Linked DNA regions of Homo sapiens. The protein of the gene in region 7 purifies or fractionates together with the protein of the main gene of each other region. This does not show direct contact. Each region holds a gene or a part of one and is shown on either strand. Other genes may lie near its edges. The genes, in order: ADCY3, DHRS7, DHRS3, PLEKHH3, TAP2, WDR44 and PTCH2.

Region 1 (3,500 bases), on a different chromosome or scaffold from region 7:
CCCCGGCTCCTTAGGCCCTTTCACATCAAGTCGGGCTCCCCCGGGCAGTAAAATTTTCTTAACTCACTGGGCTCCTCTCCAACAGCCAGGCAACCCCTGGCCCCTCCTGGCTGCACCTGGTATTCACATCAGGGCTGCTCCCCAGGTATTTAAGAAACACTGCATTGCCTGACTGATCACAGAGGTAGCTACAACCATGCAGGAATTTGGAGAAGCAAGAGACATCAGTGATGGGATTTCATAGCCATGGGACTGGGGTACAATCTCACCATGGCTTTTTACCTTGTTCATACATATTTTTATGTGGAGCTGTGGTTAGTTTCCATTACCGTATGGTATTTCACTGCATGAATATACCAGTTATGTATCCATTTCCTGTTGATGTCATTTGGGTTGTTTTCATTTGTTTTGGGGGAGGGGGTATGTCTATTACGAACAGTGCCACTTTGGACATTCTCATACATATATCCTGGGACATGAGTATGTGCATGAATTTCTCTAAGATGTGTGTATATATATATATACACATATACACACGTCTGCGTGGGTGTGTATGTAGGAGTGGAATTGCTGGGACACAGGTTTATTTTCAACCTTACTAAATAGATCAAAATATTTTCTAACACGGTTGTACTAACTCATACTCCCACCAGGAGTGTAAGAGTTACTATTGTACTTGATATTGTCAGAGTTATCTGGACCGGTACGTGTGTGATGGTATCTCACTAGGGTGTAACTGGCATTTCCTTGATTACTTGAGTGCCATTTATTAGTGGCCATTTAGAGTTCTTCTTTTGCTAAGGGCTATGCAGGTTTTACCCCTCTTCTATTAGGTCATCTTTTTATTTCTAAACTTCCTTGAAGGTCTGTTCAAGTCATGGAATCATAAAATTTTAAAACCTTGGCACTGGCAGGGACCTTAGAGAACTTCTGGTTCAGTATCCTCCTCAAGAGATGAAATTGCAACTCATGGAAACGGACCTGCCTGTGACCCACAGAGAATTACTGCCTGCTGCAGGCTCAGAAGCCAGGTCCAAATCCAAAGCGTCTTCCTCCCTCCTCATTTTCCTGCTGCCTGTCTGTCCTGCCAGCCAGTTACATGCAGCTGCCATCCACCTGGTATTTCCTTCCCTCCTCACTGCACTGCTGCAGCCCTCCTGGAGGAACCCATGCCAGCTTCTCTAACCTGCACGTATCAGGTCACGTGCCTCCCGGGAGGGTGAGATCCCGGGGCTTGGGCCTGTTATATTCCTGTCTCTAGAAGAAGGGCTGTGAGTGCAGGCCAGGAGGGGAAGCCGTGGCCCTTACCTGTCAGTGCCATTGAGCCCAGGGTTGAATCCTTGCATCTGCTCTAAGGCCACCATAGGTAAGCTGTTGGACAGATAACAGCACAGTCAGGCCCCATCTGGGAACAAGAGCCTGATGCCCAGCCAGGCACCGGGGTATCCCAAGTCCTCCACTCGGGGAGAATGGGAAGAATCTATTCTCAGGTCCTAGCCAAACAGTGATACGTCTGTGAGCAGCCAGGAACTGGTTCTTGAACAAGCCTTTGAGGACCCCTAGTGGCAGAAAGCCACCTCAGCACAGGCCCATGAGCTTGAACTGAGGACTTTGCGGGCGGGAGGAAGGAGACAATACAGATCCCCAGTCACGCTTCATCTTACTCGTGCTCCCGAAAACGCTTGTGGTCGTATTCATCAAAGACGGGACGCCAGGCATAGAGGTTGATGGTGGCCACGGCGCCTGCGACGAGCAGCATGAGCGTGAGCTTCACCATGTGGCTGACCTGCACCAGCATGATGGTGGCGATGAGGGACAGCACGGCCACATAGTTGTAATACTTGGGGTTCTCCAGGCAGCTGCCCTCCGTTTCCATCCCTGCCGTTGCATTGCTGGGTCCCGTGTAGTACTGGAGACAGCTGAGCTGGAGGCCAGGACGGCGGGCAGGGACACACGTTCAAGAGAACAGCAGGTGCTGGTCACAGAGGGCTGTGCATGGTAGTGCACGCTCAGCTGCCACCTCCCGCGGCTCCCCCAGAAATACCGGGAAAGATGGGGAAATTTACCAGGGACTAATCATATGAAAGTTAGTAACTGCAGCTAAGAGCCTCGCCGTTGCCTCATTTGACATTCACAAAAACTCTCTCGAGTATTTTTAGTACTGTCCCTATTGTACAGAAAACTCGGGCCAGATTTGCCCAAACACAATTAGCAAGCAGAAAAGCCAAAAGTAGGAGCCAAGTCTTTAGGCTTCAAATCCAACATGTTCTTCCCCATATCACACTGTTGCTTCAGGAGGGGCCACGGGACCATGAGCCCCACTCACAGCCTCCCCGTGATGACAGCTAGTCTCTGCCCAAATCCTTCCATTGGGGGGATGTTCACTGCCTTCTGGATTCTTTACTGGTTCTGCTACTGGGCAGATGCGGCCGGGAGAAAGCGCATCCAGAACCGGAATCAACCCCCCCTTTTTGTAACTTTCACCCACAGGGCAACCTTGTCTTGCTTGCGCGATTCCCGCCATGTCATTCTAGCATGAGCAGTTGTTACACCTCCCTAGCTTTTTACCCCTCCATGAGTGACAGCATCTCCAGGTGTCCTGTACAGTGTCCAGGACCCCATGCAGTGGTGACCTCCACACCTGGGTGCCAGGTTCCAGGCATGTTGTGACATGCAGGGGGCCTGGGGCTTCTCTTCCCTGGGTAGTGGGCACCAGCAACCCCTGGCCAAGGTAGGCTCTGGAGCCCCTAACTCCTCATTCCCAGTAGACTTATTCTTTTTTTTCTTTTTTTTTTTTGAGATGGAGTCTCGCTCTGTCGCCCAGACTGGCGTGCAGTGGTGCATTCTTGGCTCACTGCAACCTCCACCTCCCAGGTTCAAGCGATTCTCCTGCCTCAGCTGCCCAAGTAGCTGGAATTACAGGCTCGTGCCATTGTGGCTGGCTAATTTTTGTATTTTTAGTAGAGACGGGGTTTCACCATCTTGGCCAGGCTGGTCTCAAACTCCTGACCTCAAGTGATCTGCCTGCCTCAGCCTCCCAAAGTGCTGGAATTACAAGTGTGAGCCACCGCGCCCGGCCCCCCACTGGACTTCTGATTAGCTGCAGCCCTGGAGCTTTTTCACTTATACCACTGGCAGAATAAGTCTCCATGTTGGTTGTATTTGTGTGCTCCAATTTTTTTTTTTTTTTTTTTTTTTTTTTTGAGACAAAGTCTCACTCTGTTGCCAGGCTGGAGTGCAGTGCACAATCTCGGCTCACTGCAAGCTCCACCTCCCGGGTTCACGCCATTCTCCTGCCTCAGCCTCCTGAGTAGCTGGGACTACAGGCGCCTGCCACCACGCCCGGCTAATTTTTTTGTATTTTTAGTAGAGACGGGGTTTCAACTGTGTTAGCCAGGATGATTTCGATCTCCTGACCTCGTGATCCGCCCGCCTTGGCCTCCCAAAGTGCTGGGATTACAGGCGTGAGCCACTGCGCCCGGCACCGTGTGCTCCAATTG
Region 2 (2,390 bases), on a different chromosome or scaffold from region 7:
TTATAGATGATTATGCAGCAAAAGATTATTGCTGAGGATGGTTTTTACTGTTAGCCTTTGATATACTTTGTTACCACCTTCTTTTAGAAATTAATCAATGGGGATTGACAGATAAAAAAAGAATTATAAAACAAGATCATACTATATATACCTGCAAAAATTTAAGCAATCCACTAATTGTTAGACATTTAATTTATTCCAACTCTTTGCAGGACAGTGAAAATGAATTAGGGGGTAAAAAGTTACAAACACAACAAAATGCTTAAGAGACATAAAAGGTTATCAGACTGGGTCATGACACACTAAAATGTCCAGAGTGTGAAAAATCAAAAAGGAGCTTTTCGTTTTCTACCAAGTAGTAATGTGGAACAGTTTGCTTTGGGCCAGATCCCTTATGAGTGTTTTGGTATTGTTGGGACTTGGTAGTGTGGGTAGAAGCTCTAAAGGTAGAGTTTCATCAAAGAGTATACCTGAGTTTTAAATATGGAGGACAGCTGATGCAGTAGCTTTGTGCCCAGTGATGGAAAGAGTTGAGAGGGACAGGCCACCTTACTACAGAGGAAGCACAGCCTCCTGGCAGAGCATGCAGCCTGGTGCTAGGCTACCTGGGTTCAAATCCCAGCTCTGCCCCATGCCCTTAAAGCAAGTTACTTCTCTATCACTCAGTCTCCCCATCTATTAATATAAGATGGAGATTAATGATGATAATAGTGCCCAGTCACAGGATTGTTATGGGAATTACATGAATTTAATATATGAAAAGCACTTAAAACACAACTTGGAGTGTTCTAAGTGTTAGCTATTGTGCTTTTTCCCCCTTCTCAGCTTGAGTTAGATATAGCAGGATATTCAGCTTCCTTAATGATCAAAGATTTTCTTTATAATTGACACATAAAAATTATATATATTTAAGGTATACATTGTGATGATCTAATATACACTGTAAAATGATTACCACAATCAAGCTAATTAATACATGTCACCCAGTTACCTTTTTTTGTGTGTGGTGAGAACACTTAAAATCTTCTTAGCAAATTTCAAATATGCTATACAGTATTATTAACTGTAGTCACCATGCGGTATATTAGATCCTTAGAATCTGTAAATTATAATAACATAAGTTATTTATCTTATAACTGAAAATATCTACCATTTTTTTTCTTTGAGACAGGGTCTCGCCCTGTCACCCAGGCTGGAGTCTGCAGTGGCGTGATCATGGCTCACTCCCATCTCTACCTCCCAGGCTCAAGCAATCCTCCCACCCCAGCCTCCTGAGTAGCTGAGACTATAGGCGCACACCACCATGCCTGGCTAGGTTTTGTAGTTTTTGTAGAGACGGGTTTTTGCCACGTTGCCCAGGCTAGTCTCAAACTCCTGGGCTCAGGCGATCCACCTACCTTGGCCTCCCAAAGTGTTGGGATCATAGGTGTGAGCCACTGTGCCTGGCCAAAATGTGTACCTTTTGACCAAGATCTCCCCATTTCCTCCATCTTCTGGCTCCTGGCAACCATCATTCTACTCTGCTTTTGAGTATGACTTTTTAGATTCCACAGAAGTGAAATCACATAGTACTTGTTTTTCTGTATCTTGCTTATATCACTTAGCATTAACGTCCATTCATTATCCATGTTTTCACAAATGCCAGGAGTTCCATTGTTTTATGGCTGAAAAATATTCCATTGTGGAATAATATTCCATATATATATATACACACACAGACACACACACACATTTTCTTTATCCATTCATTCACTAATGGACACTTAGGTTGTTTCCATATCTTGGCTATTATGAATAATGCTAAAATGAACATGGGAGTGTAGGTATCACTTCAAGGTACTGATTTCACTTCCTTTAGATTTATACCCTTAAGTGGAATTGCTGGATCAGATGGTAATTCTATTTTTAATTTTTTGAGGAATTTCCGTATTTTCCATAATGTCTGTACTGGTTCACATTCTCAATTTAAATAATAGGGCAGAGAAAGAATATATTATAGAAGTGATTTTTTTTTCAAAGGGGAAAGAGGGACCAGGGACTAGAGAATTTCAGTCCCACTGTAGTAGTACTTCCAGAAATGTCCATATGAAGGATATTTTGTTTTGTTTAGAGAATATCTAACTGTAAAATATAAACATCATTTAGCAAATCTCGCATTTTTTTTACATCTAGGTTTTTCTAAAAAAATGACAGCCTTTTTCTTCCTACCACCATCTTTGAAATATTGCTTATTATATAGTCTTACTACTTTGTCACTCTTTATTATAAGCTGGGCATTCTGTCATTTCTCAAAGCAATTTTTAGGACATAATACCTCATTCTTTATAGTCTGTACTCTTCCTCTCTCCCACTATTTTATATTTTATATATATGTATATATATAAATTTTC
Region 3 (3,500 bases), about 32 Mb from region 7:
AGTCTAGACTCCTCGAAATTCAGAATTGATGACAATTTGCATGCAAACCAGGTGGTCTGCTAGGAAAATTAATAACATGCATTTATGAAGATGTTTATTGTTAGGAAAAATAATAAAAGCAGCAGCTCCTTATTGAGCATCTAGTATCCGGGCTTTGCACTAGATGTGTTACATGTATTATTTCTAATTTCCTGGGCTCAAGCCATCCTCCTGCCTCAGCCTCCCAAAGTGCTGGGATTGCAGTCATGAGCCACCAAGCCCGGTATTTTTGATTCTCAACAATCAACACCGCACTGTCCCGATTAATAGTAACTAAGGCGTAATGAGTGACTCCCACGTGGCATGCACTACACTAAATTGTCTCACTGAATTCTCCTCATGACCCTTCCGTGTCATCCTCATTTTTGGAAGCAGCTGCAATATATAATCAGAAGGTGAAGCACTGTACGCTGGATTGCAAAAAACCAGGGAGAATAGTATTTGAGTAATTCCCGGTTTTCATTCATCGATGACGTCATGCCCCTACATAACTGCACATCATTAAAGCGCCATTTATTGGGCACTTAATATGTACCACACACGGTGTTCCCTGCCAGATTCCACTTTGTCCTCACTGCAGAACCTATGATGGAGACATTCGCGCACCCCATCTTGCAGATCAGCCACAGCAGTAATTAACGGGACCCAATGTCACAGAGTACATCACAGCTATGAGGGAGTCACCACCCCAGGTGGCATGAGCTCTAGACCAGTGGTCCCCGTTCCCCTTGACTTAACTGGTTTGGAGGAGGAGTGGTGGGACCTCCCTATTACTCATTTTAAATTGAGCTACGGCCAGGCGTGGTGGCTCACACCTGTCATCCCTGCACTTTGGGAGGCTGAGGTGGGTGGATCACCTGAGGTTGGGAGTTTGAGATCAGCCTGGCCGACATAGTGAAACCCCGTCTGTATTAAAAATACAAAAATTAGCTGGGTGCAAGCGCACGCCTGTAATCCCAGCTACTCGGGAGGCTGAGGCAGGAGAATCACTTGAACCCAGGAGGTGGAGGTTGCAGTGAGCCGAGATCGCGCCACTGCACTCCAGCCTGGGCAACGGAGCGAAACTCCATCTCAATAAATAACTAAATAAACAAACAAATAAATTGAGCTATAATTTGCATATAACAAAAGGTATACATCTTAAGCAGACAGTTTGATTAACTTTCACGTATTTAATGACTGCTAAGTTCAAGAAGAGAGAACATTTCTGAAGGTCTTGCTAGTTCCCTCGCCTCCCTCCCAGGTTACACCCCCAGCCCTCCAGGGGAAGCCACGGGTCTGATTTCCATCACCCTAACCCAGTTTTGCCTGTTTTGGAACTTCATACAGGTGGAACCAGGCAGAATGCACCCTATGTCTCAAGCTCCCTTCGCCCTGCACGACGCTGTGGAGGTGCATCTCCCTCATTTGACCTTTAGACACATCCCGCTGCATGCCTGTAGCTCTGGTAGTTTCCTATAAGCTCCCTGAACCAAGCAGCAGGACCCTCCCCATCGTGGCATCACTGCCTTGCAGACCGAGAACCAGGTAAGACAGCGTCAAACAGAGGGTAGAGGCTCCTTGGTGACTTTTTGTTTTGAGACAGGGTCTCACTCTCTCTCCCAGGCTGGAGTGCAGTCGCACAATCACAGCTCACTTGCAGCCTCAACTTCCTGGGCTCAAGCAATTGATCCTCCCACCTCAGCCTCCCAGATAGCTGGGAATACAGGTGTGCATCACCATGCCCAGCTAATTTTTTATTTTTTTTAGACACAGGGTTTCTCCATGCTGCCCAGGCTGGTCTCAAACTGGATTGCTGGGCTCAAGCGATCCACCTGCCTTGGCTTCCCAAAATGCTAGGATTATAGGTATGAGGCACCGTGCCTAGCCCGATTTTTATATCAGAGCTCTTTCTGCAGTTGGCTGACTGAATGGCTTGGGGAGGCAGGTGAGAAGGCTGGTCTCAAGGTGGGTCCCCTGCTCACTGACCTGACTCTCATGCCCTGGAACATCTCGGTGCTGGTGTGGAAGGGCAGCACTGTGGTGGCGCTGACTCCCGGACAGTCCAGCAGCCCCAGGGTCAGGCTCTCCATGAAGGCGAAGGCTGACGCTTTGGATGTGCAGTAGTCGATGGCACCGGGGATGGCAGACAGTGCCAGCACGGAGTTGAGGCACACGATGTGGCCATTCTGCAGCTCCAGCATACGCGGCAGGAAGGCCTTGGTGGTCTGAGGGCAGATGGGGTGTCAGGGTGGAGCAGCTGCAGCTCTGACAACCCCTCCACCTTTCTTTCGGGGAGAACAGCCCACCCCGGACACACATGATGCTCTAGGGCCCGAGCCTTCCTGCGAGGGAGAGGGCCGAGGGCTCCCTGCCCCAGGACACCGAGCATATTTCACAAAGTCTGATGTGTCCTAGAGCTGGTCATTCGTCTTGTCTGGCCACCTTGTTCGTGGACATCCCTGCTGGCCTGAGCCCAAGCCCTGGCAAATCATCCCCTCCCCTCCATCCTGCCTGGGCTCCCTGCACGCCCGGGGCTGGCTCTGGCCCCGGATAGCCCTTACCCAGAACTGGCCCAGGGTGTTGATGTGTTGGGACTTGAGGAGGGCATCATCATCACTGTCCATTAGGCTCTTCCCATGGACCACGGCGGCATTGTTCACCAGGATGGTGATGTCACCCACCTGCAGGCGAGAGGGAGCCACGGGGCCATGAGGGCAGCCAGCCCAGGGCCAACGATATATGTTTTTTGTTTGTTTGTTTTTGAGATGGAGTCTCACTCTGTTGTCCAGGCTGGAGTGCAGTGGCACCATCTCGGCTCACTGCCACCTCCGCCTCCTGGGTTCAAGCGATTCTCATGCCTCAGCCTCCCAAGTAGCTGGGATTACAGGCTCCTGCCACCATGCCTGGCTAATTTTTATATTTTTAGTAGAGATGGGGTTTCACCATGTTGGCCAGGCTAATCTTGTTCTGACCTCAAGTGACCCGCCTGCCTCGGTCTCCCAAAATGCTGGGATTACAGGTGTGAGCCACCGCACCCGGTCCAATATACTTTTTAAAAGGGATATGGCTTACTCCTAAGTGAACGAGTAATTTCTGAGTCCATTTATGATCAATCAATTGATGTGTTATTTACAAGTTTTTCTTAGATATTCCTTCCCGCAGGCCACTTTCTGCCAGCCTAGTTCCAGTTATCCTGCATACATAGAGGCCCAGCAGCCACCTGGCCGTACCACCAGCAGCCACAGGGCCTGGGGAAGAGAACTGCGTCTCTGAGCGCCAGTCTTGATTTGTGAGATGGGGCTAATGCCGCACCAGGACTGTTCTGAGGAGGAGAAATAATTTATGGCACACACCGTACCTGGCACACAGCATATTTATAATAAATGAGTTTACTGCGACATAAAAACAGTTAACATTACCACGTGCCAGACAGTCAGGGTGGGTTTCCCTCTCTTGGAGGTCACTGATATATTTAGCCC
Region 4 (3,290 bases), on a different chromosome or scaffold from region 7:
ACTTGGAGCCTCATCCCGGAGAAAGGGCTGCCGGAGGACGACCCGGACATCGTTGTGAAAGGTAGAGACCCCCCTCAGTGCACTCTGGAGGCCCCCAATCCCAACCCCCTAGGGATTAATGTCTCTACTGATGTCCCTTCCCTCCCTCTCCGGCCCCCAGGTTGGCTGTACCGGGAGCCCCGCGGAGGAGGGGCGCGGCCCTGGCTGCCCCCGCGCCGAGCCTGGTTTGTGCTCACGCGGGACTCCCTGGATCAGTTCAGCAGCAGCGGGAAAGGGGCGCGGCGTCTCGGGAGCCTCGTGCTCACCAGCCTGTGCTCGGTGACCGGCCCAGAGCGCAGGCGTAAGGAGACAGGTGAGACCTCCTGGGGACTCTCCTACCTTCCTAGGCAGGGGCCCCGGCAGACCCTAATGGCCCTCCCTGGCCTCTCTTTTCCCCAGGTCTGTGGTCAGTGACTGTGTCTGGTCGGAAACACAGTGTCCGCCTCTGCTCCCCACGCCAGGCAGAGGCTGAGCGCTGGGGGGTGGCATTGCGGGAAGTGATCGCCTCCAAGGCACCCCTGGAGACCCCCACCCAGCTACTGCTCAGGGACATACAGGTACACACCAGGGAGAGCCAGGAGAGTGGTGGACCCCAAAGCTTTCTGGGGTTGTGAGGAACTCCCTTCCCCATCAAGGTGACCCTCTCCCTGGCCCCCTAGGAAAGTTGCGGGGACCCAGAGGCCGTTGCCCTCATTTACCTGAGGAACCCGATTCTGAGACACACTAGTGGAGCCTTGTATGCCCCACTCCTGCCCCTGCCCTATGGAGTCAGCGCCCCAGGTGAGTGGTCCCATGGCCCAAGTCCCCTGGATGGGATGGGGTGGTTCAGAGGTAAGAATCTGAATCCCTTAACTGGCAGGGATCTAAGCATCCTTCATGGACCTGCCAGCTCCTCACTTTTCGAAGGATGAAGGTGAAACTGGAAGCTGGCCAGGGTGGAGGAGAGGAAGCCAGCACACACAAAAGGGCCCCCTTTGGCCACCTTCTCTATGGGTCTCATTCTGACTACTGATGTTCCTTCAGGAGTTTGTACACTCCCCTATTTTTTCATTATCCTCTTGAGACTATGCCATATTACCTTTACAAGTGGTAGAAAAGCTACCACTTTTGTAGAATGTGCTGGCCTCATCCAACTGTACTTCTCCCTAAACGGTGTAGTGACTGGCCCAGGTCCTAAAGTTAGAGGATTAAAGGGTGCTGGGAGAGGAACCCCGGTTTTCTGACTCCTAGTCCAGCCTGTTTTCTGACCTATGGTGGTGAGCCTCAGTATGGAGTTACAGAATCTGGGGTGTGAATCTACAGCCCTTCCCGGCCGTCCGTCTCCCTAAGTCCAAATGCAGGCTTAGTGGGATTGGGAAGGGGATTCCTGGGAGGCAGAGGTTGAGAGTCTGGCTCCGTGGGACCACTGCTTTCCCTTCACTCTTCCTGTCGTTCGTACCCTCCCCTCCCTGCCACCCCATCCCCTTATATTCCCTCTGACCTTCCCCTGGTTCATGCCTTCCTCCCAGGGCGCAGCTCTGTGTCCCCTCTCCAAACCGTCCCTCCGCCCCCACCCTCCCACAGGTCCGGGCTATGCACCCCTGCGCGAGGAGGCGGTGCGGCTGTTCTTGGCGCTGCAGGCGCTGGAGGGGGCGCGGCGCCCCGGGCCCTTGATGCAGGGTGTGCTCCAAACCTGCCGGGACTTGCCCGCGCTCCGGGATGAACTCTTCCTGCAGCTGGCTAAGCAGACCTCGGGCCCTGCAGGTCCCCCCGGGCTCCCGGCTACCCAAGACCCTGCGGCCCTGCGGTACTGGCAACTCCTCACCTGCATGAGCTGCACCTTCCGACCTGGGGGAGCTGTGCGGGGGCACCTCCTGGGGCACTTGGAGAGGTGAGAGGGGCGAGGTGGGGGTTACGGCCTAGGCGAGGAGCTACCGGGCTGGGAGAGAATGAAAGGTCTTTTGCAAAAGACTTGGTAGGTAAAGAACCGAGTAATACATACAGTGCCTTTGTGGGAGATACAAGATCCTATCGCAGTTGTGAGCGGATGAATTACAATAAAACGCCCCCCTTGGGCTGAGGAGTTATGAAAAGGCTGCTTTTCCTCCAGCTGATGCAGGCCAGCGCCAGGGCTTAGGAAAATGTAGTAAAGTGGCTGGATTTCGATTTCAGGCCGAAGGAAGATCACGAAGACTTTTGGAAGTGGTGGAGGCAGTTGGGAGAAAGCTGCCAGGGGACTTGAAAAGTAATTCAGCTCTATGCAAAGCACTGGGGAGAGATTTAGAAGAGCCTTCAAAGAACTTGAGTTGGGGCGGGGAGGAAATCGGCTAGATAAAATAAACTATAAGAGAAGCAGGCAAGAGGGAGGGGGAGAAGAAAGCCCTTGGAGTATTGATCCCTGGGTTCCTCCTAACCCAGGACCGAGCAGGCACTCCCGGACTCGGAACTGGCGGAATATGCGCGCTTCATCCGGAAAGCGCTGGGCCGGACGCGCGGCAGAGAGCTGGTGCCCTCGCTGGCGGAGATTTCCGCGTTGAGCCAACGGCAGGAGCTGCTGTGTACCGTGCACTGTCCGGGGGCTGGTGCCTGTGCTGTGGCCATCGACTCCCACACCACGGCGGGGGAGGTGAGGCCAGAGAAAGGCCCCATGACCTCCAACCCACCCTGCCAGCTTCTCACGCCTGTCTCTCCCTCTTCCTGGACCCTAGGTTTGCCCCGAGTCTAGATTATTTTGGTAAGGGAGGGAGTGGTGGTGACAGGACTAAGAGACCCCTTCCAATTGAATCAACCCCTCCCAGAATCCTGGCAAGACCTCTGAGTGGTCTCCCCTCACCCTCCTCTTCTAGGTGGCTCGAGAGCTGGTGGGGCGGCTGGGCTTGGCCCGGAGCCGCAACGCATTCGCGCTGTACGAGCAGCGAGGGGCCCAGGAGCGAGCCCTGGCTGGGGGGACCCTCGTGGCCGACGTGCTCACCAGGTTTGAGAAGTAAATGTCCAGCCCCAGCCCTGCTCTCTATTAGCCCATCCACTTCTCAGCTGAGGTCAGTCTCTAAGCGGACATTATCCAGCGCTTGCCCCTGGCCCTGCGCTGTGGTGTTCGCTGGTTTACAGACGGACCTGCCCGCCGCAGGTTTGCAGTCCGACTGCAGCATCACCTCCGCTGTCGGCTCCGCCCAGGCCCCGCCCCAAACACATGGCCCCGCCCCCACCCCAAGCTGCCCTCGCCGTAGGGGTCCGGCTTCTCCCTAGCGCTTCGTCCGCTCCTCTTCTGCAGC
Region 5 (3,500 bases), on a different chromosome or scaffold from region 7:
CAATACAAAACCAAAACCCGCAAGTAATTTTGCTATGGAGAATTTTAAACATATGCCAAAAATGAGACAAAATAATATTACAAACTCACATGTATACATCCTGTGCTTTAACAATGATCAACTCATGCCCAATCTTGTTGGATCTGTATCCCCAGCCACTTCCCCCCACCCATATTATTCTGAAGCAAATCCAAGATATTGTATACTTTCATCTGTAAATATTTCAGTATGTTTCTTAAAAATACAAACATCTTTAAAAGTGTATAACAACAAAGCCATTATCACACCAAAAAATTAACAGTAGTTCTTAAAATTTATCAAATAGTCAATTGTCAAATTTCCACTTGTGGTATCCATGTAGTATATGTGTATGAGTGTGTTTATTATACTTTGCTTAAATCAGGATCCAGAAATGGTCCACATATTGTGACTGGTTGATACATCTTTTAAGTCTGTCTGTCTATCTATCTATCCATCCATCTATCCATCCATCCACCCATCAATCCATGTATCTGTCTAAAAGTTTCCCTTGCACAGTTTATTTGTTGAAGAAATAGGTTGTTTGTCCTGTGGAGTTTCTTAGGGTCTGGATTTTGTTGACTGAATCCCTGTGGTATTATATGCTCTTCTGCCTCTGTACTTCCTGTCTATTGATAGATAAACCTAGAAGCTTGTGAGATTGAGGGGTTTTTTTTGGTCTTTTTCCAGCAACAGTACTTTTTAGGTGGTGATGCATTCTTCCTCCAAGAGGCACACAATGTCTGGTTCTCTATTTGTGGCAACATCAGCCACTGATGAGCAGTACCTACATCCATGACAGAATTAGGGCTGCAAAAGGGAGATACTCTATCATTCTTCATGTATTAGCTGAAGTAGTCTATGAAGGGAGACTTCCCCTCATCTACCATTTCATTACCCGGTGGTACAGTTTGATGAGGAAAGGCAGAGTGAGCATTTAGATCTCTTCCTACATTTACCAGTTCTCAAAAACAGCTACTTCATCCAGGGCTTTATTTAAACATTTTCCTAGACACTTGATAAACATCTTTTTTGTGTAGAGAACTGCGCTGGGCACTCTGACGGCTACAAAGGTGAGTTGGGCACAGTGCCTGCATTTAAGGAGCTCCCCGTCTAATCAAGCAAGACAGAACTGGGCACAAGTAATAGGAAGCAGTAACTGAAAAGATCTGGGGCTAGAGGCAATGCTGTATGGTAGGAGAAGGGACTGTATATCCTTTATATTGCAAATTGGAACACTGGGGTATTGGTGCCACTTTTAAATTCCGTCCAAATTGTACATTTAAAAGTGGAGAATCTCTTTTGAGTATGGAGGAGGAGCAGTGCAGTTGTGAGTGGAGTGTGTGAGGAGTTGGGAGGGTGGTTTCTGGTAGAAGTGTGTTTAATTAGCCGGCTCTCCCATTCCTGTTTTCCAGACCCTGGTATACATATATGGGGATATGCTCAGCAACGTGGGAGCTGCAGAGAAGGTTTTCTCCTACATGGACCGACAGCCAAATCTGCCTTCACCTGGCACGCTTGCCCCCACCACTCTGCAGGGGGTTGTGAAATTCCAAGACGTCTCCTTTGCATATCCCAATCGCCCTGACAGGCCTGTGCTCAAGGTGCCTGAAAGAGGGAGGAAACCTGGACCCTTGCTCTCTGCTGCTAATGCATAATTGGACATCACAGCCTATAGTTCATTTGCCTCTGAGAACCTGGTCTTGCCTCTGCTAAGAAGAGAAATGGAGGGATTTTGAGGGAGAAGGGGCAGGCCCTTAACTCTTTTTCTGGTTTTCTAGGGGCTGACGTTTACCCTACGTCCTGGTGAGGTGACGGCGCTGGTGGGACCCAATGGGTCTGGGAAGAGCACAGTGGCTGCCCTGCTGCAGAATCTGTACCAGCCCACAGGGGGACAGGTGCTGCTGGATGAAAAGCCCATCTCACAGTATGAACACTGCTACCTGCACAGCCAGGTGGGTGAGGAGGGAGAAGACAGGGGACAGGAGAGGGGAGCATGTACAGAGAGAGGATGGGAGATCCACGGGAAGGCGCACCAGGTGTTCATTCTGAGGGAGGTAGGTGGGGAGGACAAAAGGGCCCCTGCCTTGGGGGTTTACACATAGTCCTCTGCCCCTGTCCCTGCTGCACAGGTGGTTTCAGTTGGGCAGGAGCCTGTGCTGTTCTCCGGTTCTGTGAGGAACAACATTGCTTATGGGCTGCAGAGCTGCGAAGATGATAAGGTGATGGCGGCTGCCCAGGCTGCCCACGCAGATGACTTCATCCAGGAAATGGAGCATGGAATATACACAGGTATCTTCTACAAATTGTAAGCTTGCTCCTTCAGTAAAAAAGAGAAAATCAGACTTACTCTTAGTGGTGAAGGTCGTGTCCCTGTAGCTTGATGTTTGCTGTTCCTCTGCCCTTTCCTCCATTCCTACGTCTCCTTCCCCACACACTGAATTCTTCAGCCTCCCTCTTGATCAAGAGTCTTTGTTTGCAGAGAGCAATGCAGCAGTGGTGCTCCCTCCGTGGGCAGCCCCGTCAGGTCCCCACCCCATGGCCCTCCTCCCACTGGGCCCTCCCCGCACTGGGCCCTCCCACCTCCCGAGGTCCTACTGGAAGTACCTGCTGTGCACTTGTCCCTCCTTGTGTGTTGTCTGTGTCACTTGTATCTGAGGAAGGGAATTTCTCTGATTTCCTCAGATGTAGGGGAGAAGGGAAGCCAGCTGGCTGCGGGACAGAAACAACGTCTGGCCATTGCCCGGGCCCTTGTACGAGACCCGCGGGTCCTCATCCTGGATGAGGCTACTAGTGCCCTAGATGTGCAGTGCGAGCAGGCCGTGAGTACCGTGAGAGGGCAGGGGACAGTGGGGCCTGGGAGGGGCATGCTGGGAGGATCAGACTGTGCAGAATTGGGCAGAGGGAGGACGAAGGACCTACTAGTGGAAACAGTCTGTGCCTTCTTGGGGTTGGGGAATGGAATCCGGTGGTGTGAGGGCAGCCCCAGTTCCCTCCTGGGCTTCCATTCCTCCAGCTGTGGCAGTACAGCCGGGAGAGAAGGGCAGTCCAGGCCTTTATCTACTGCCCTTTCCTACCTTCTTTTATTTCACACCTTCTTTACCCTAAATCATAAGAGATGGTGCCCAGGTGGATGTGGTGTCCATCTCATTCCTGTCTTTCTGAGGCACTGTGATCACCCCTTCAGCTGCAGGACTGGAATTCCCGTGGGGATCGCACAGTGCTGGTGATTGCTCACAGGCTGCAGACAGTTCAGCGCGCCCACCAGATCCTGGTGCTCCAGGAGGGCAAGCTGCAGAAGCTTGCCCAGCTCTAGGAGGGACAGGACCTCTATTCCCGCCTGGTGCAGCAGCGGCTGATGGACTGAGGCCCCAGGGATACTGGGCCCTCTTCTCAGGGGCGTCTCCAGGACCCAGAGCTGTTCCTGCTTTGAGTTTCCCTAGAGCTGTGCGGCCAGATAGCTGTTCCTGAGTTGCAGGCAC
Region 6 (3,500 bases), on a different chromosome or scaffold from region 7:
ACCACCATGTCTGGCTAATTTTTTGTATTTTAGTAGAGACAGGGTTTCACCATGTTGCCCAGGCTCGTGTCGAACTCCTGAGCTCAGGCAATCCACCCACCTTGGCCTCCTAAAGTGCTAGAATTACGGGTGTGAGCCACTGTGCTCGGCCCATATAATTTTAATTTAAATGATGGACCTGACAACTTAAAGGCTTCAGAAATTGAAGAAAAGAATCTTTAAGCAAGGTTCAATGTACAACATGTAAATGAATGCAATTTAGAAATTTATGAAAAACCTACTACAAACAAACCTTTTTGCTTGGCAAAATGTGCTATAGGGAAATAATAAAGTAACTTGTAGGTATCTTCCTCCCCACTCATTAAGTACATCCTGCATTACATTTAATAAAATAGCTCCTGCTTTTACCAAAATGATTCAATAGATCCACATACATCTCGTAGTAAAGTCACTCATCTCATTTTAAAGCCATTTTCTGATCCTACAAAAACAGTACAAATATTTAAACAATTTATGATCCTTAAAGCAAGGTTTCAGAAGACTAAGTGTTCATTCTACATAGCTTTTTAGCCTCATTTTTCTGTTATTTTAATTTATTTATTTATTTTTGTGGAGATGAGGTCTCACTATGTTGCCCAGGCTCCTCTCTAACTCCTGAATTCAAGTGCTGCCTCAGCCTCCTAAAGTGCTGGGATTACAGGCATGAACTATCACGCCTGGCTGCCTCACTGTTTTTATATTGTCTCAAGTATAATTTAAATCATTAAAAAAGAGAAATTAAGTGCTATGGGATTTAATATTTATACTATTTTCCCCAAGTAACTGTACAGTCATAATGAAGAGCAAAGTTAAAGAATACATACATTATCTAACTCTATTTTAATTCCAGAAGAAAAAAGACTGAATGAAACCAAATTAGGGGTTGTCATAGTTCATTAACAGAGAAATCTTAACAACTCTGAAATACTAGAAATGACAAATAACAACATTAGGCCATACCTTACATATTCTTTTGTCCTTCTCATGATGTGTAGAGTGAGAGGATTAATGCCTGTTGGTAGTTTCTCTTCTGCAAGACTCAAAGGTATTTCTTCTCCAGTATCCAGGTTCTTAATCATTACACTGGCTAAAATTTCCTGAGGTTAAAAAAAAAAAACAATCACACCAAGATGACCTGCAATTTAATTATCTTTTTGAGTCTACAAAATCCCCTAAAATTTAAGCTAAAGGCTTTTTAGATATATTCAATACTGCACACAATAATTTCTAACATTTTTATTGAGATATAATTCACATGCCACAAAATGCACTCATTTAAAGCATATAATTCAATGGTTTTTAGTATATTCACAGAGTTGTACAACTATTGCCACTAAGTCAGAATATTTTCTGCACCCCAAAAGGAAATTCCCTACCCATTAGCAGTCACACCTCATTTCCCTTTCTTTTTAGCCCCTGGCAAATACCAATCTACTTTCTGTCTCTATAGATTTGCCTATTCCATACATTTCATATAAATCAAATCCTGTAATATATGGCGTTTTATGTCGGTTTCTTTAACTTAACATGATGTTTTCAAGGTTTATCCATGTTGTAGCATGTATCAGTACTTTATCCCTTCATTCCTTTTAATTGCTAAAAAATATAACATGGTATGAATATACCACATTTTATTTATCCATCCAATCAGTGATGAACATTTGGGTTGTTTCCACTTTCTGGCTGTTATGAATGATGATGCTGTGAATATTTGTGTACATTTTTTTGTGTGAACATATGTTTTCATTTCTCATTGGTATATACAAAGGAACGGAATTGCTGGGTCATGGTAACACTATGTTTCACATTTTGAGGAATTGCCAAACTGTTTTCCAAAGTGCAATATTTTAAGAAATGTATTGTTTTAAAGAAACATCAACTAAGATTTTGCTGTAAAATTTAATTCTGAATAAGTTGGCTAATAGGTGCATACTAAGTTTTAATGATAAGAAACCATTAAAATAATAAAAAAATTTATTTTGGTATAACATATATTCATAATATCAAGTTCTTTTATTATTATATTATTTTAAATTTTTTTTCTTGAGACCGAGTCTTGCTCTGTCGCCCAGGTTGGAGTGCAGTGGTGTGATCTCGGCTCACTGCAACCTCCGCCTCCCAGGTTCAAGTGATTCTCCTGCCTCAGCCTCTGGGTAACTGGGATTACAGATGCACACCACCATGCCTGGCTAATTTTTGTATTTTTAGTAGAGACAGGGTTTTGCCATGTTGGCCAGGCTGGTCTCAAACTCCTGACCTCAAGTGACCTGCCCACCTTGGCCTCCCAAAGTGCTGGGATTACAGGAGTGAGCCACCACACCTGGCCTCAATATCAAGTTCTTTTAAAGCCCACTTTCTATAAAATATAAACCTTGCTTTCAATATATTTATTCCACTATGCAACACAGTGAAAGGGCAAGTTTAAGTCAGAGATGCTACATCCAGCATATCAACAAAGACAATCTTCAATTTTCATTTTTTCTTCTGTATTTTTTTTTGTGTGTAACAGCAATAAACTTAAAAAAAATTAAATTGTGGTAAACTACACATAACATAAAATTTACCATTTTAACCATTTTTAAGTGTATAGTTCTGGGTCATTAAGTACATTCACATTGTCATGCAACCATCATTACCATCCATCTCCAGAACGTTTTCATCTTCCCATTATGTTTTTTGTACTTTATGTTTTAAGAACAAGAACAAAAAAATCTATTTCTACCTCATCAGTAAGCTCTCTCCCAGAGTTGGATCTAGGTCTCTGAGGGCCCATCACTTCACCTGCTACAGTCTGCCCATCAGGTGCTTTTCCATTTTCCTGGAAATATAATTTTATAAACAGAAATTAGACTGAATCAATTTCTATAAATTTTCAATTATTACCACATATAATTCTAAAGAATTTCATAATTCAGATAATGGAGTCTGCTGAAAATCTAAATGGAACATTACGTTTCAGTCCTTCATTTTTCCCAGCATGCTGAAAAACATTAGGAACCAAAACTATTGCTGCTCATGAAATAATGTCTTAGTATTCTTGAAAACAAATAAATGTTCTATTTGAACCTGGCCAAAAGGCATTTCTCTACTAAGACTGCTATTAATCTGGACTGTATGTGGCTACCTCAAAGGTAGGGGTCAGAAAACTTCTCTCTATAAAGAGCCATACAGTAAATATTTAAGGCATTTTTGTTCATATAGAGTCTCTGTCACATATTCTTCTTCTTATTTTAAACAACCTTTAAAAATGTAAAGAACATTCTTAGCTTGGGGAACCTCCTAAAGCAGGCCACTACTGACCCCTGCTCTAAGGCTATAACAAGACTATAGTGTCCTATATTCTAGTGTGGTAGCCTGGCCCACCACAGCTACCATGTAAGTAGCTCTGAGTCCCAGAATCTGGCTGTGGTAAAATTAGTGTTATCAAGTCTTTTGTGTAGCCCGCTTCCTAGCATATAAAG
Region 7 (3,500 bases):
GCGGGCGCCTGTAGTCCCAGCTACTTGGGAAGCGGAGACAGGAGAATTGCTTGAACCTGGGAGGCGGAGGTTGCAGTGAGCCAAGATCGCCGCACTGCACTCCAGCCTGGGCAGCAGAGGGAGATTCCATCTCAAAAAAAAAAAAAAAAAAATTTCAGCATGACTCTCTTCTTTCCTGAGGGCTGGTTTCATATGGCAGCCCTTTGATAGGAGTCAAACTCCAGTCTGTTTTTCCCTGGGAAATTTGCATTTTGTAGACTCCCTCAGCCCTGGCCCATACCCAAAGGCAGAACCCAGGTTGGAGTCTCACACCCTCGAGTTATTTCAAATACTGGCAAGTCCTAGGATCCACAGCAGATGTTTCTCAGAGCTTGCCTGCCTGTTGAGCTCCCACACGCCATCCCCACCCTACCTACCCCCAGCCCTGCAGACTCTCACATCCATATACACTCTAGGCCAGCCCTGGGGTCCAGAGCAGATGTCTCGCTCTGCCTGCCTGCCCCCAGCCCCAGGACACAGATGTGCATACACGCACATACACATATCCCCACCCACACCACTGCTGCCTGGGTGGTCCCAGATGACTCTTGGATTTCCTGCCCCAACAGAGGCAGTCTCCCTTCCCTTCCTCCCTCTCCATTCCCCACATTCTCCCCATCTAAACACTGCTTGAGCCTCCATGTTTCCTCATCCTCTCTCCTATACTCCAGCATAGGATAGGCTAGACCCCAGCAGTTTTTTGCTGTTGTTTGGGGGAGGGTTTTATAAGAGGATGGTAGCCAATTCCTAGGCTTTTTTCCTTTATTTCAGAATATCACTCTTGTCCTATATTGGCTGGGGGTGAGGTAAAAATCTTTTTTTTTCTTTCTGTTTTTTTTTTTTTTTTTTTTTTGAGAGTAAGTCTTGCTCTGTTGCCCAGGCTGTAGTGCAGTGACGCAATCTCGGCTCACTGCAACCTCCGCCTCCCGGGTTCAAGCGATTCTCCAGAGTAGCTGACACTATAGGCATGCGCCACCATGCCCGGCTAATTTTTTTGTATTTTTAGTAGAAACAGGGTGTCACCATGTTGGCCATGCTGGCCTCGATCTCCTGACCTTGTGATCCGCCCGCCTTGGCCTCCCAAAGTGCTGGGATTACAGGCCTGAGCCAGACGCTAGGCCAATCTTTTTTTTCATAGAGATGGAGTCTCACTGTGAGACCCAGTCTCAAAGAAAAAGTGTAAGAAGGCAGGGTGCAGTGGCTCACGCCTGTAATCCCAGCACTTCGGGAGGCCGAAGTAGGTGGATCTCCTGAGGTCAGGAGTTCAACACCAGCCTGGCTAGCCTGGCTAACTTGGTGAAACTCCATCTCTACTAAAAATACAAAAATTAGCCAAGTGCGGTGGTTCGCGCCTGTAGTCCCAGCTACTCCAGAGGCTGAGGCAGGAGAATCGCTTGAGCCCAGGAGGCAGAGGTTGCAGTGGGCCAAGATCGTGCCACTGCACTCTAGCCTGGCGACAGAGCGAGACTCAAAAAAAAAAAAAAAGAAAAGAAAAAGAAAGATTAAGCCGAGGAAGAAACCGAACATTGGCTATCACAGTGTTCCAGACCAGAGTTCAGGGTCCTCCTTAACTTTGCCTCAGTGAGACTTGGAATTTGACTTGTTTGTCTTTCCTGGCCAACTGTAAAGTCAAGCGTTCAGAGGCAGATTGTTCTCTAAAATGAAAATTACAAAGGCCTGGCACGGTGGCTCACGCCTGTAATCCTAGCACTTTGGGAGGCCGAAGCGGGTGGATCACTTGAGGTCAAGAGTTTGAGACCAGCCTGACCAACATGGTGAAACACTGTCTCTACTCCAAATACAAAATTAGCCAGGCGTGGTGGTGCATGCCTGTAATCCCAGCTACTGGGGAGGCTGTGGCAGGAGAATCGCTTGAACCCGGGAGGCAGAGTTTGCAGTGAGCCGAGATCGCGTCTTTGTACTCCAGCCTGCGCAACAAGAGCTGCCATTCCATGTAGAAGACAGAGGATGGCCTTATATCAGTTGGTAGAATCACCATCCACTTAAATACCTAAAGCTAAAACCTTAGGAGTCAGCCTCAGTTCTTGTTCACCCAATTGTTTACTAAACTATTAAATCCTTGCTTCTTAACCTCTCTCATAACAAACCCATCCTTTCTTTTTTTTTTTTTTTGAGACGGAGTCTTGATGTGTTGCCCACACTGGAGTGCAGAGGTGCGATCTTAGCTCACTGCAAGCTCCATCTCCCGGGTTCACGCCATTCTCCTGCCTCAGCCTTCTGAGTAGCTGGGACTACAGGCACCCGCCACCATGCCCAGCTAATTTTTTTGTATTTTTTTTAGTAGAGACAGGGTTCCACCATGTTAGCCAGGATGGTGTCGATCTCCTGACCTCGTGATCCGCCCGCCTCGGCCTCCCAAAGTGCTGGGATTACAGGCTTGAGCCACCGGGCCCGGCACAAACCCATCCTTTCTACCTTGTGGTCACTGCTCTAGTTGAGGCCTTGTTCTATCTCTGGCAATACACTTCTGATTGTATCATTTAGAATGCTTTTAGGCCAGGCGTGGTGGCTCATGCTTGTAATCCTAGCATTTTGGGAGGCCAAGGTGGGAGGCTTGACTGAGCCCAGGAATTCAAGACCAGCCTGGGCAACATGGCAAAAACCCATCTCTATTTCTAAAAAATTAAAAAATAAAATAAGGCCAGGCACAGTGGCTCACACCTGTAATCCCAGCATTTTGGGAGTCCAGGGTGGGGTGGATCACCTGAGGTCAGGAGTTCGAGACCAGCCTGGCCAACATGGCAAAACCTTGTCTCTACTAAAAATACAAAATTTGGCCACACATGATGGCATGTACCTGTAATCGCAGCTACTCCGGAGGCTGAGGCAGGAGATCACTTGAACCCAGGAGGCGGAGGTTGCAGTGAGCTGAGATCGTGCCATTGCACTCCAGCCTGGGTAACAGCAAGACTCTGTCTCAAAAAAATATATAAATAAATAAATTAAATTAAATAATAGAATGCTTTTAGCCACATGAAAAGAGAAGAAAAGGAAAGGAAGAAGGGAAGAAGGAAGAAAGAAGATTGATTTATTATTCTCTGTAACAGGAAGCCTGGTTAATTCAGTTAATTCGGCAGCCCAAGGACATTAGCAAGGACCCAGTTTCTTTCTATCTTTCTCCTCTGCCATCTTCAACATTCTGGACTTTTGTCCTCAGACTTATCTCAAAGTGGCTGCTGCAGTGTCAGGAAAAAGAAATCATTCTTGTCTTGCATTTCTTTTTGTTTTTGTTTTGTTTTATAGAGACAGGGTCTCACTCTTTCACCCAGGCTGGAGTGCAGTGACACAATCACAGCTCACTGCAGCCTGGAACTCCTAGGCTCACACAGTACTCCTGCCTCTTTCTCTGTAGTATCTGGGACTACAGGCACATGCCACCATGCACAGCTAATTTTTTTGTTTGTTTGTTTGTTTGTTTGTAGAGACGCAGTCCCACTATG

What was found.
Region 1: the proteins of PTCH2 (region 7) and ADCY3 purify together in Homo sapiens (affinity purification with mass spectrometry; one large-scale study listed by BioGRID and IntAct). This does not show direct contact.
Region 2: the proteins of PTCH2 (region 7) and DHRS7 purify together in Homo sapiens (affinity purification with mass spectrometry; one large-scale study listed by BioGRID and IntAct). This does not show direct contact.
Region 3: the proteins of PTCH2 (region 7) and DHRS3 purify together in Homo sapiens (affinity purification with mass spectrometry; one large-scale study listed by BioGRID and IntAct). This does not show direct contact.
Region 4: the proteins of PTCH2 (region 7) and PLEKHH3 purify together in Homo sapiens (affinity purification with mass spectrometry; one large-scale study listed by BioGRID and IntAct). This does not show direct contact.
Region 5: the proteins of PTCH2 (region 7) and TAP2 purify together in Homo sapiens (affinity purification with mass spectrometry; one large-scale study listed by BioGRID and IntAct). This does not show direct contact.
Region 6: the proteins of PTCH2 (region 7) and WDR44 purify together in Homo sapiens (affinity purification with mass spectrometry; one large-scale study listed by BioGRID and IntAct). This does not show direct contact.

Annotation. Positions count from the first base shown.
Region 1 is NC_000002.12:24,826,238-24,829,737, forward strand, and holds part of ADCY3 (adenylate cyclase type 3), read right to left. Parts: intron 1,925-3,500; coding exon 1,665-1,924; intron 1,372-1,664; coding exon 1,309-1,371; intron 1-1,308.
Region 2 is NC_000014.9:60,146,009-60,148,398, reverse strand, and holds part of DHRS7 (dehydrogenase/reductase SDR family member 7 isoform 1 precursor), read left to right. Parts: intron 1-177; exon of another isoform or gene 178-2,390. UniProt on the Homo sapiens protein: NADPH-dependent oxidoreductase which catalyzes the reduction of a variety of compounds bearing carbonyl groups including steroids, retinoids and xenobiotics.
Region 3 is NC_000001.11:12,576,711-12,580,210, forward strand, and holds part of DHRS3 (short-chain dehydrogenase/reductase 3), read right to left. Parts: intron 2,703-3,500; coding exon 2,583-2,702; intron 2,314-2,582; exon of another isoform or gene 2,247-2,313; coding exon 2,008-2,246; intron 1-2,007. UniProt on the Homo sapiens protein: Catalyzes the reduction of all-trans-retinal to all-trans-retinol in the presence of NADPH.
Region 4 is NC_000017.11:42,670,705-42,673,994, reverse strand, and holds part of PLEKHH3 (pleckstrin homology domain-containing family H member 3 isoform 1 precursor), read left to right. Parts: coding exon 1-61; intron 62-160; coding exon 161-352; intron 353-438; coding exon 439-596; intron 597-698; coding exon 699-819; intron 820-1,602; coding exon 1,603-1,909; intron 1,910-2,436; coding exon 2,437-2,644; intron 2,645-2,864; coding exon 2,865-3,001; intron 3,002-3,289; coding exon 3,290-3,290.
Region 5 is NC_000006.12:32,828,740-32,832,239, reverse strand, and holds part of TAP2 (antigen peptide transporter 2), read left to right. Parts: intron 1-1,433; coding exon 1,434-1,622; intron 1,623-1,799; coding exon 1,800-1,973; intron 1,974-2,150; coding exon 2,151-2,310; intron 2,311-2,703; coding exon 2,704-2,840; intron 2,841-3,205; coding exon 3,206-3,334; 3' UTR 3,335-3,500. UniProt on the Homo sapiens protein: ABC transporter associated with antigen processing. In complex with TAP1 mediates unidirectional translocation of peptide antigens from cytosol to endoplasmic reticulum (ER) for loading onto MHC class I (MHCI) molecules.
Region 6 is NC_000023.11:118,394,606-118,398,105, reverse strand, and holds part of WDR44 (WD repeat-containing protein 44), read right to left. Parts: intron 2,858-3,500; coding exon 2,762-2,857; intron 1,137-2,761; coding exon 1,000-1,136; intron 1-999. UniProt on the Homo sapiens protein: Downstream effector for Rab11 which regulates Rab11 intracellular membrane trafficking functions such as endocytic recycling, intracellular ciliogenesis and protein export.
Region 7 is NC_000001.11:44,836,754-44,840,253, reverse strand, and holds part of PTCH2 (protein patched homolog 2), read left to right. Parts: intron 1-3,500. UniProt on the Homo sapiens protein: Plays a role in the control of cellular growth. May have a role in epidermal development. May act as a receptor for Sonic hedgehog (SHH).